Linked DNA regions of Homo sapiens. The protein of the gene in region 3 interacts with the protein of the main gene of each other region in a pairwise test. Each region holds a gene or a part of one and is shown on either strand. Other genes may lie near its edges.

Evidence for each region. Proteins that work in one complex are often made in the same cells at the same time.
Region 1: the proteins of PLLP (region 3) and DRD2 interact in a two-hybrid assay, tested with the Homo sapiens proteins (one large-scale study listed by BioGRID and IntAct).
Region 2: the proteins of PLLP (region 3) and HTR2B interact in a two-hybrid assay, tested with the Homo sapiens proteins (one large-scale study listed by BioGRID and IntAct).

The regions. Positions count from the first base shown.
Region 1 is NC_000011.10:113,409,399-113,412,898, forward strand, and holds the end of DRD2 (D(2) dopamine receptor), read right to left. Parts: intron 3,486-3,500; coding exon 3,158-3,485; intron 1,523-3,157; coding exon 1,329-1,522; 3' UTR 207-1,328; downstream 1-206. UniProt on the Homo sapiens protein: Dopamine receptor whose activity is mediated by G proteins which inhibit adenylyl cyclase. Positively regulates postnatal regression of retinal hyaloid vessels via suppression of VEGFR2/KDR activity, downstream of OPN5.
Region 2 is NC_000002.12:231,108,043-231,111,542, reverse strand, and holds the end of HTR2B (5-hydroxytryptamine receptor 2B), read left to right. Parts: intron 1-2,133; coding exon 2,134-3,026; 3' UTR 3,027-3,313; downstream 3,314-3,500. UniProt on the Homo sapiens protein: G-protein coupled receptor for 5-hydroxytryptamine (serotonin). Also functions as a receptor for various ergot alkaloid derivatives and psychoactive substances.
Region 3 is NC_000016.10:57,260,673-57,264,172, reverse strand, and holds part of PLLP (plasmolipin), read left to right. Parts: intron 1-2,102; coding exon 2,103-2,276; intron 2,277-3,500. UniProt on the Homo sapiens protein: Main component of the myelin sheath that plays an important role in myelin membrane biogenesis and myelination. Plays an essential function in apical endocytosis. Regulates epithelial development through the regulation of apical endocytosis.

The DNA of each region.
Region 1 (3,500 bases), on a different chromosome or scaffold from region 3:
AAGGCCACCTTTTCCACAGAGCCTTCTCTGCCCTGGTGGGTAAGAGGGCAAAGGATGAGTCCTTCAGAGGAAGCAGGAGCTGCAACAGGGGAGGTGGAGCAGTGGGGGCAACCTGGCTTCCCTTGGGTTAGACCCTGCAGACACAGGGGTCTTGCTATACTTGAATGCCAAGCACAGAAGTGGCACTGCTGCCTTCTACCCAGGGGTCCTGGAAGGTGACTCGTCAAAGTTTTATTAGTTTGGTGCATGGATAGTGATGTTACAGAGTCTAGGCCCCAGGGGCTCTCCCAAGCTGCAGCTTCCCCTCCTTCCTCAGGGCAGGGCCAGGCCAGGCCAGATGGTTTTCAGCAGCCTCTTAGCCGTGGGCTCCTCTAAGGCAGAGGCAGTGGAAGGGAAGGGAAACAGGAGAGAGGAAAGGCCAGAAGGAATAGAAAAGGAAAGTGGTTTTGCGTCAGAGTGTGGCAGAGGCAGTCCCTCAAAGAACCTCTGATGTCCCCTAGCCCAGGCCCAGATAGAGTTCCAGGGCCTGACCTCCCTGCCAGGCCCCAGGCTGGCCAGCATGTGCTGTGAGAAGGGATACATTGCAGGGCCGTCAGAAGGCAGCAGGGTGGGCTAGGCCAAGGAGTTCCTCTCCCCATAGACCCTCCTGGGCCCTTCAAGATGAGGGCTCCTCTTCTCAGAGCATGTGGAAACCACTTGGGGAGCTGTAACGGGGTGAGGTGGGTCCGGACTAGCCTGGAAAGTAGAGGTCCACATCGGGGTGCGGGAGGGAGCTAAGGTTTTTGGCTTGGGAATCTCTGGGGTCCAACCTGCAGTCTGGTATTTACATGGGTCTCCCAGGACTGAAGTTGCCTGGCTCCTCGGCAAGAGAGCTTGCTTGCCTCCTGTGGGCCTTGCAGGGTGTGAACTGTCCATCTCTCCCCACCGCCTGCTCCACGCCAAGCCCCACAAAGAGAAAACTCAGCCTCTGGGCCCTGACTCAGGCTCCAGCAACCCTAGAGCCCCAGAGGAAGGTCAAGGAAGGCGGCTGCATCTTTGGTGCCAAGGATAGGGGGACTGGAGGTGGGAGGGGGGACTCTATGAGCTGCCCCTGAGCTGGGGGGCCCAGCCCCAGGGCTGGTACCATGCCCAGCTCACTAGCACTGCCCTGGCAGAGTGAGGGTGTGCGGGCAGTGAGGAGCATGGAGCCAAGCGAACACTGCAGGGCCTGCCGGGGTGAAGAGGAGGCCGATCCACCCAGGCCTTCCTGCTCACGGTTCGCAAGGGTGAGGCTGGCCGGCCTGGGCAGGGAGGTGGGAAGCAGGCTGCTGTGCGGGCAGGCAGCAGAGTCAGCAGTGGAGGATCTTCAGGAAGGCCTTGCGGAACTCAATGTTGAAGGTGGTGTAGATGATGGGGTTCACGGCGCTGTTGACATAGCCCAGCCACGTGAAGGCGCTGTACAGGACAGGCGGGATGTTGCAGTCACAGTGTATGTTCAGGATGTGTGTGATGAAGAAGGGCAGCCAGCAGATGATGAACACGCCTGGGGGAGAGGGCATGGTCAGGCTGGTCCCCAGAGCCGGGGAGGCACGGCTGGGAACACCCACACCCAGTGCGCCCTGGCTCGTATGCCAAGACGGTGGGCTGTAGCCACAGAAGCACTGTAGGAGGAGTCCAGGTCTTGGATCCTAGACCTGCCTCTGACACCCATTTGCAGTGAAGTATCCCTTCAGCTCCTTCAGCCTCACTTCCCTCATTTGTCCCTTTCCCACCTCCTAGAAAAGGGTACATGGTTTAACAATAAATCCAAAAGGTTACCATTCTGACCCAGGTTAGCCAGTAGAAATGGAAATATCTACTCTACTTCCAGGTCATCTTTGAGGGCTATAGACCCATGCCACTTAGTTCTTATAGCATCCTCATAAGGTACATAAGAAAAACACTCACAACAGCTCTGCAATATACCCAAGGTCATTCACTCTTGAGCAGCGAGGCTGAGAGCTGAACTCCGGTCTATCCAGGTCCCCAGATGATCTCGCTCTAGCCTTCCCCCAATTTCCCCAGTCTTGGTGGGTACACCCTTGCTAGTCCCTGCCTTGAACCATGCCCTCTCACCCAGGGCAGCCACCTACCTGCTCTGCTCACCTAACTCAGGTGCACTTTTTCCAGGACCTCCTGCACAGGTGTGATATTTATCCTGGAAGCAATGTGTACATGGAATGCCCTACAGGCACAGGAGGCATCCCTGGAGACTGAATGGTGTCTGGGAAGAGTAGGGCCACAGAGCTGAGCCCCTATGGACTGCAGCAGAGGGCCTGGCTCCAATCCTAGCCTACCATATCCCAGTCCCATGATCGTGAGTAGTCCCATGGGATCAAGTGCTCTCATTCATAAAAGAAGGGAGGTAACAGCTGCCCCACTCACGCCCCAGGATCATCCGGCAGTCAAAGGGGATTCAGGTGCTTCCTGGAAGACAGAGTCACAGGGGACCCTCCTTTTCCCAGCCACCCATATCAGTCCACCTTTTGGGTTTTGACCTTTACTATGTGGTTTTCTAGACTTCTATTGAAAAATCCTGCTTTATGGACAGGGATGCTTTTCATTTAGATTGGGGGCCACTCCCCAACATCTCATTTATTTTTCACAGCTCTGGTCCCATGGAGTCTTGTTTGAGTGCAAGTGAACTGAATTTCCCAATTCCTCAAAAAGAGCAATAGTAATAAAAACCATAATAGTGACACTTACATATGGATAGTGCTTTGTAGTTTAGAAAATGCTTTCACCAACTGATTGCCATGACAGCCCTGAGAAGTAACCTACTCTACAGATGAGGAGCCTAGAGAGAGAAAGTGACTTTCCTGGGCACATAGGCCCATGAGGTTCTGGTGCCAGCATAATAGACTAGTCAAATTTCCAGACTCTGGAGTCAGACTGCCTGAGTTCAAACCATGGGTCCTCTTGGTCAGGTTTTATAACCACTCTAAAACTCTGTTTGCCCATCTGTAAAGTGAGCACAATTACAGAATCTACCTAATAGGGCTGTCTGTATGTCAATGGGCTTGGCCTGTGCCTGAGGAAATGCTAGCCCCATGATCCTGCAGCCATGGTTAGGAAGGACATGGCAGGGAATGGGACCTTTCACAGACCGGGCTGTGGCCAGCAGCCAGGGCCGACTCACCGAGAACAATGGCGAGCATCTGAGTGGCTTTCTTCTCCTTCTGCTGGGAGAGCTTCCTACGGCTCATGGTCTTGAGGGAGGTCCGGGTTTTGCCATTGGGCATGGTCTGGATCTCAAAGATCTTGGCAATCTTGGGGTGGTCTTTGGCATGCCCATTCTTCTCTGGTTTGGCGGGGCTGTCGGGAGTGCTGTGGAGACCATGGTGGGACGGGTCGGGGAGAGTCAGCTGGTGGTGGCTGGGTGGGATGGGGCTGTACCGGGTCCTCTCGGGTGGGCTGGTGCTGGAGAGCATCTCCATCTCCAGCTCCTGGGCTCGCCGGGCAGCCTCCTGCACCAGAGGCAG
Region 2 (3,500 bases), on a different chromosome or scaffold from region 3:
GGTAATACCTGGCAACAGAAAGTATAATAATATAACAGGGTAAGGGCATAAAAAGTACCAGTGAAAACTTTTACAGTTATTGACCAACAAGCTGGATAGGAAAGTAGTGTGAGTCCTGATATTAACAGAATGTAAAAACTGAGATGAATGAAGTCTCATTAATAGAATGAGTTAATAGAATGTGAAAACTGAGATGAATGAATGAACTAGAGATAAAAATAACAGGAAACAGAAGTTCTCTAGGAGTGAGGGGTAGCAGGACAAGGAAGGGAAGTATTAGAGTTCATAATCTTAGGGATTGTTCTAAGTAGACTTGTAGATGGCTTTAGTGCAAATAATAATAATTAGAGTCAAAGAGTTCAAGAAATATAAAATTAAGGTCTTAGAAGGGTCACGAATGGGATGAAGTAGAAAATGCTGGCACTGGAACAGTGGAGAGAAGACTATAGCAGGTACTGAAGCCATTGATGAAGATGAACAAATGTCATGGAGGTTAACAGAAAAGCAAGATGGAGAAGAAAGTATTAAGTAGATAAAATAAACTTCAAAAGGCAAGTGTTTTGGGGGAGAAATAAACAGTGGAATGGTGATCTGAAAGTAACAGGGTAAAGCAGGGGTCAGCAAACTTTTTCTATAAAGGGTAAGACAGCAAATATTTTGGGCTTGCAGGGCGTATATGGTTTCTGTCACAGCTCCTCCATTCTGCTGCAGTAGAACAAAAGCAGCCACAGACAATATGTTACTAACAAATGGGAGTGGCAGTATGCCAATAAAACTTTTACAAAAATAGAATGTGGGCCAATGGTCCTCAAACTGTAGTATAATGACCCCTGGTGTAGAACAAGTATACAGAATCCTCTTTCTGGTGGTGTACATGAGGAAAAGTAGAGAAAGTAATGACCTCTGTTAGAAAGGGTTTGAGGAACATATTCTTGTCAATGGCTCTTTAGCTACCATAAAAAGGGTGTGTAGATGAGGGGTGCTCTTGGATTCACAAAACAACACAAGGATTCCAGAGGTTTCTAAAGATCAATTAATTCAGACATTTAAAAAATATCTGCTGTTTCAAAGGAAAAAGATTCAGGTTAACCCCTGTATTATTTGTCTTTCTAATAAGCTACTTCACTAAGAAACATCATATTTAAATACTTCATGGTATTTAAAGATCAGAAAACTAACATGAGGTATATTTCTTTCCCAGGTCATAAAAGAACTTTTTTTTTGAGACAGAGTCTTACTTTGTCGCTGAGCGTGGAGGGCAGTGGTGTGATCTCGGCTCACTGCAACCTCGGCCTCCTGGGTTCAAGTGATTCTCCCACCTTAGCCTCCTGAGTAGCTGGGAGTACAGGCGCGTGCCACCATGCCTGGCTAATTTTCATATTTTTAGTAGAGATGGGGTTTCGCCATGTTGGCCAGGCTTGTCTCAAACTCCTGACCTCAAGTAATCCACCCCCACTTGGCCTCCCAAAGTGCTGGAATTACAGGCATGAGCGCCACTGTGCCCAGGCTTCTACAGAAGAAGAAAGATTAAGAACTCATAATCTTTCAACATCATGATTCACACACACTCAAATTTTAAGTAGCACTTTTTAATGAACTTTAGTTTTCCCTAAGAAGTTAGATGGAAAGGATTAAAAGACATTCACACATATCAAAAGGAAAAACTGTTAAATGAAACTGTAACCTCAAAGACAAAACTGAGTAAAGATATTGAATAAATGTACTCTGAAGTGCCTCTAGATCAACTACACTGGATAATAAGAAAAAAGCAGGTTCTCTTCTGAATTTCTCTTCCTTAATCTGAGATAGCTTAAAAAACAAAAATAGATTATGAGAAATGTAGAATAAATGAAGACATTCTCCACTGTATCATGGATATACTATAGCTTTAGGGGAGCTTTCATTATAAATCTGAAATTACTAACCAATCTCCGTTTAAAAACAGATTTGCTCACTTAGGTTCTGTTTGTCAAATCTTCACTGATGAATGCTTCGACAAATCCTGCATTGTGGGTCCCAGGAATTATAATGCACCAACAAGCATAAAGTTATAAGGATACAATCCAAAAGGATCTAATCGAAGAGTTACAGGTCATAAAATGACTCAATTTATCTTGTTTTCCTCTTCCTTAGGCATTGCCATTCCAGTCCCTATTAAAGGGATAGAGACTGATGTGGACAACCCAAACAATATCACTTGTGTGCTGACAAAGGAACGTTTTGGCGATTTCATGCTCTTTGGCTCACTGGCTGCCTTCTTCACACCTCTTGCAATTATGATTGTCACCTACTTTCTCACTATCCATGCTTTACAGAAGAAGGCTTACTTAGTCAAAAACAAGCCACCTCAACGCCTAACATGGTTGACTGTGTCTACAGTTTTCCAAAGGGATGAAACACCTTGCTCGTCACCGGAAAAGGTGGCAATGCTGGATGGTTCTCGAAAGGACAAGGCTCTGCCCAACTCAGGTGATGAAACACTTATGCGAAGAACATCCACAATTGGGAAAAAGTCAGTGCAGACCATTTCCAACGAACAGAGAGCCTCAAAGGTCCTAGGGATTGTGTTTTTCCTCTTTTTGCTTATGTGGTGTCCCTTCTTTATTACAAATATAACTTTAGTTTTATGTGATTCCTGTAACCAAACTACTCTCCAAATGCTCCTGGAGATATTTGTGTGGATAGGCTATGTTTCCTCAGGAGTGAATCCTTTGGTCTACACCCTCTTCAATAAGACATTTCGGGATGCATTTGGCCGATATATCACCTGCAATTACCGGGCCACAAAGTCAGTAAAAACTCTCAGAAAACGCTCCAGTAAGATCTACTTCCGGAATCCAATGGCAGAGAACTCTAAGTTTTTCAAGAAACATGGAATTCGAAATGGGATTAACCCTGCCATGTACCAGAGTCCAATGAGGCTCCGAAGTTCAACCATTCAGTCTTCATCAATCATTCTACTAGATACGCTTCTCCTCACTGAAAATGAAGGTGACAAAACTGAAGAGCAAGTTAGTTATGTATAGCAGAACTGGCAGTTGTCATCAAACATAATGATGAGTAAGATGATGAATGAGATGTAAATGTGCCAAGAATATATTATATAAAGAATTTTATGTCATATATCAAATCATCTCTTTAACCTAAGATGTAAGTATTAAGAATATCTAATTTTCCTAATTTGGACAAGATTATTCCATGAGGAAAATAATTTTATATAGCTACAAATGAAAACAATCCAGCACTCTGGTTAAATTTTAAGGTATTCGAATGAAATAAAGTCAAATCAATAAATTTCAGGCTTTAAAAAGAACCACTGTCATCATAAAATTTATTTGGTTTCTAATTATATGCAAAGTTGTGCTAAGAATGAAATAAAACAAAACAAACATTAGCCTTGCCTTCCAGGTCTTAAAAGCATAAGGCATGATACAGAACAAAAGGAACACAGAGCTAAAAATAAGTGCACAAAACAGTGATCACATCTGGAGGTGAGTTAA
Region 3 (3,500 bases):
GTAGGGATCCACACAGGAGCTTCCCTTCTGGTCCTCGACGAGGTTGCTTTTGGATGGGGTGCCTGGCAGGCACCCCAGCTCTGTCTGTGCTCTAGGCCCAGGCCCTCAGGTGCTCTAGGGGCTGGCGGCAGCCCCTCAGCTGCTGGGAGCAGCCAGGACTTTCTGTCTCCAAACCCTAGCAGCCAGAGGCAGGTCCTGCTCCGGAGCCGCTTCTCTGATCCCACTGACTTGTCCTTGGGCTGGTGGCAAGGTCACTACGCAGCCTTGGTGCCATGTACCTGGGCGCTGACCAGGGGAAAAAGAGGACACCTCTGTGTGTCTTGATTGGCAATGGAGCCTTTCTCCAAAGCTAGACCCTCGTGTCCTCTCCGTGGCCAGGGATTCCAGAGAGTGCCCTCGTGGAGAAGGCGCTCTCCAGAGCATCTCCACCAGCAAGGGGTGGGTGGGGGTAGGAGGGGCTGGGGAGGCCCAGGATGGCCACATCCGAGGTGCCTCTGGGGGCCTCCACGAGCTCCCTGGGCCCTGCCTCAGCTGGCCCTTTGCTGGCCTGCACCCTGAGACAGTCTGCATAGTGAGTCGACAAACCTGCCGCAGAGAATTCTCTGTGGCTGTGAGGGCTGGGGCCTGTGCAGTCCAGTTCGGGCTTGTGGAATAATAAAAAAACACTTCTGCTGCAATCATTTATGTGCATGAACTTGTGGGTCCTCACAGTAGCTCTACAAGATAGGAATGGTCATTATATGATAAGCAAGGGTGGTTATACACTTGCCCACGGCCACACAGCCGGTAAGGAGAGCCGGGATCGAAGCCAGACAGCTGGGCTCCAGAGTTCATGCTGTTAGCCACTACCCATGCTCTGCTGGGATGGTCAGGCCCATCCTGCCGTGTGGGAACAGCCTGACAGGTAGGCCCCTTGGCTTCCTGGAGGCCCAGTTTCACCTGTGAGATGGCAACACCTGTATAGAAGGGCATCTGGGAGAGCCGGAGACGTGGGGTGTTGGGCAGGAGGTCACCCAGAGGCCCTTGTGACGTTCTCTGCTGGGCCCAGCTGGGAGGGAGGACACAGGGCTGTTGTCTTCCCGCCTCTGGGACTGTGGTGACTTGATCTTCCTTTCAGCAGCTTTTACTGAGCCCCTGGCAGGGCCTAGGGCCTGTGCTGGGTGTGGGGACGTAGCTGTGAGACAGCCACGGCTGTGCCCTCGTGGAGCTCGCAGTCTGGGGAAGGGAACGATTATGGCCCTGGATGGTGGGTGCCTGGGGGGCCCTGTGAGCACTGATGAGGGCTCTGGGATGCCGGCTGGAGGCGTGGGGGTGTCCTGGAGCACCTGACATCTCAGCTGAGACCTGCAAGAGGAGTGAGAGTGCAGGGCAGGGCCCCGGTACAGTGGTGTATCACACGAGCCAAGTCAGCATTCCTTTTTAAATTTTTTTCTATTTTTTGAGACAATTTCACTCTGTCTCTGAGGTTGGCATGCAGTGGCATGATCATAGCTCACTGCAGCTTTTAACTCCTGGGCCCATGTGATCCTCCTGCTTCAGCCTCATGAGTAGCTGGGACCACAGGTGCGCACCACCATACCTGGCTAACTATTATTATTATTATTATTATTTTTGCTTTTTGAGACGGATTTTCACTTTTGTCTCCCAGGCTGGAGTGCAGTGGCGTGATCTCAGCTCACTGCAACCTCTGCCTCCCAGATTCAAGCAATTCTCCTGCCTCAGCCTCCCAAGTAGCTGGGATTACAGGCACACGCCACCATGCCTGGCTAATTTTTGTATTTTTAGTGGAGACAGGGTTTCACCATGTTGGCCAGGCTGGTCTCGAACTCCTGACCTCAGGTGATCTGCCTACCTCAGCCTCCCAAAGTGCTGGGATTACAGACGTGAGCCACTGCGCCCGGCCTTAATTTTTCTGTAGAGATGGGGACTTGCTCTGTTGCCCAGGCTGGTCTTGAACTCCTGGCCTCCAGCGATTATTACACCTTGGGCTCCCAAAGTGCTGACATTACAGGCATGAGCCACTGTGCCTGGCCAGTATTTCTTAGCTAGATAAGAAATGAAACCGCATCTCTGGCCAATCCTGCCTTGTCTGACCCTCCTAGGTGCTGGGGCTGCTGGTGTGGGCGCTGATTGCGGACACCCCGTACCACCTGTATCCGGCCTATGGCTGGGTGATGTTCGTCGCTGTCTTCCTCTGGCTGGTGACAATCGTCCTCTTCAACCTCTACCTGTTTCAGCTGCACATGAAGTTGTACATGGTTCCCTGGCCACTGGTGGTGAGTCTGGGTGGGGGTACTGGAAGTGGCTATGACAGGACCACTGTGACTTTCCCTAGAAGAAGTGGCAGGGTGTGGGGGGGTGGCCTGACATCCTCACTGACCTAAGCTGATCTGCAGAGCCAGGGGTGGAGGTGAGGATTGATGGTTCAGAGGTCCAGTTTTTCTATTTTTCCTTCAAGACAGTGTCTCACTATGTGCAGGCTGGAGTGCAGTGGCTCAATAATGGCTCACTGCAGCCTTGAACCCCTGGGCTCATGTGATCCTCCCATCTCAGCCTCCCCAGTAGCTAGGACTACAGGCACGTGCCACCATGCCCTGCTAATTTTTATTTTTATTTTTTGTAGAAGAGGAGTCTCACTTTATTTCCCAGGCTGGTCTTGAACTCCTGGGCTCAAGCAGTTCTCTCACTTTGGCCTCCCAAAATTCTGGGAGTACAGGAGTGAGCCACCATGCCTAGGTGCACGGTTTTTTGGGGAACCATGAGCCAGGAAGGACACAGGCTTGACTTTGTCCCAGGAGGGGAGTAGAAGTGAGGGGCTGTTGAGTGGATTTGTAAGAGGCCATTTGGAATCTTAAAAATATTTTTCCCGGCCGGGTGTGGTGGCTCACGCCTGTAATCCCAGCACTTTGGGAGGCTGAGGTGAGTGGATCACCTGAGGTCAGGAGTTTGAGACCAGCCTGACCAATATGGTGAAACCCTGTCTCTACAAAAAATACAACAATTAGCAAAATACAACAATTAGCCAGGTGTGGTGGCGCGCGCCTCTAGTCCCAGCTACTTGGGAGGCTGAGACAGGAGAATTGCTTGAACCCAGGAGGCGGAGATTGCAGTGAGCCGAGATCACACCATTATACTCCAGCCTGGGTGACAGAGCAAGACTCCACCTCAAAAAAAAAATTTCCCTCTGGGGGTGGTCAGAATTTGTGCCTGTGTTGTGTGAGTTTGTGAGATTGTAGCTTGGCCCAGGTAGGCAGCCCTGTGGCTGGAGGCTGTGGCAAGCTGTCAGAAGTTGCCCAGGCCAGGGCCTCAAGTGTGCAGGACAAGCTCGGGCACCTGGCTGCCTGCAGGTGAGGCCCTGAGGCCTGGGAGAGGCTGGGCTCCCCAGGTTTGCCCCAGGACAGTCTCCCCAGGACACAGGGCTGAGAGCGGACATGGGAAGTACCCCGGCCAGACACACAGAAAGCTGCTGGTTTTTTTTTTCCTCTGACCCGGAAAACCCC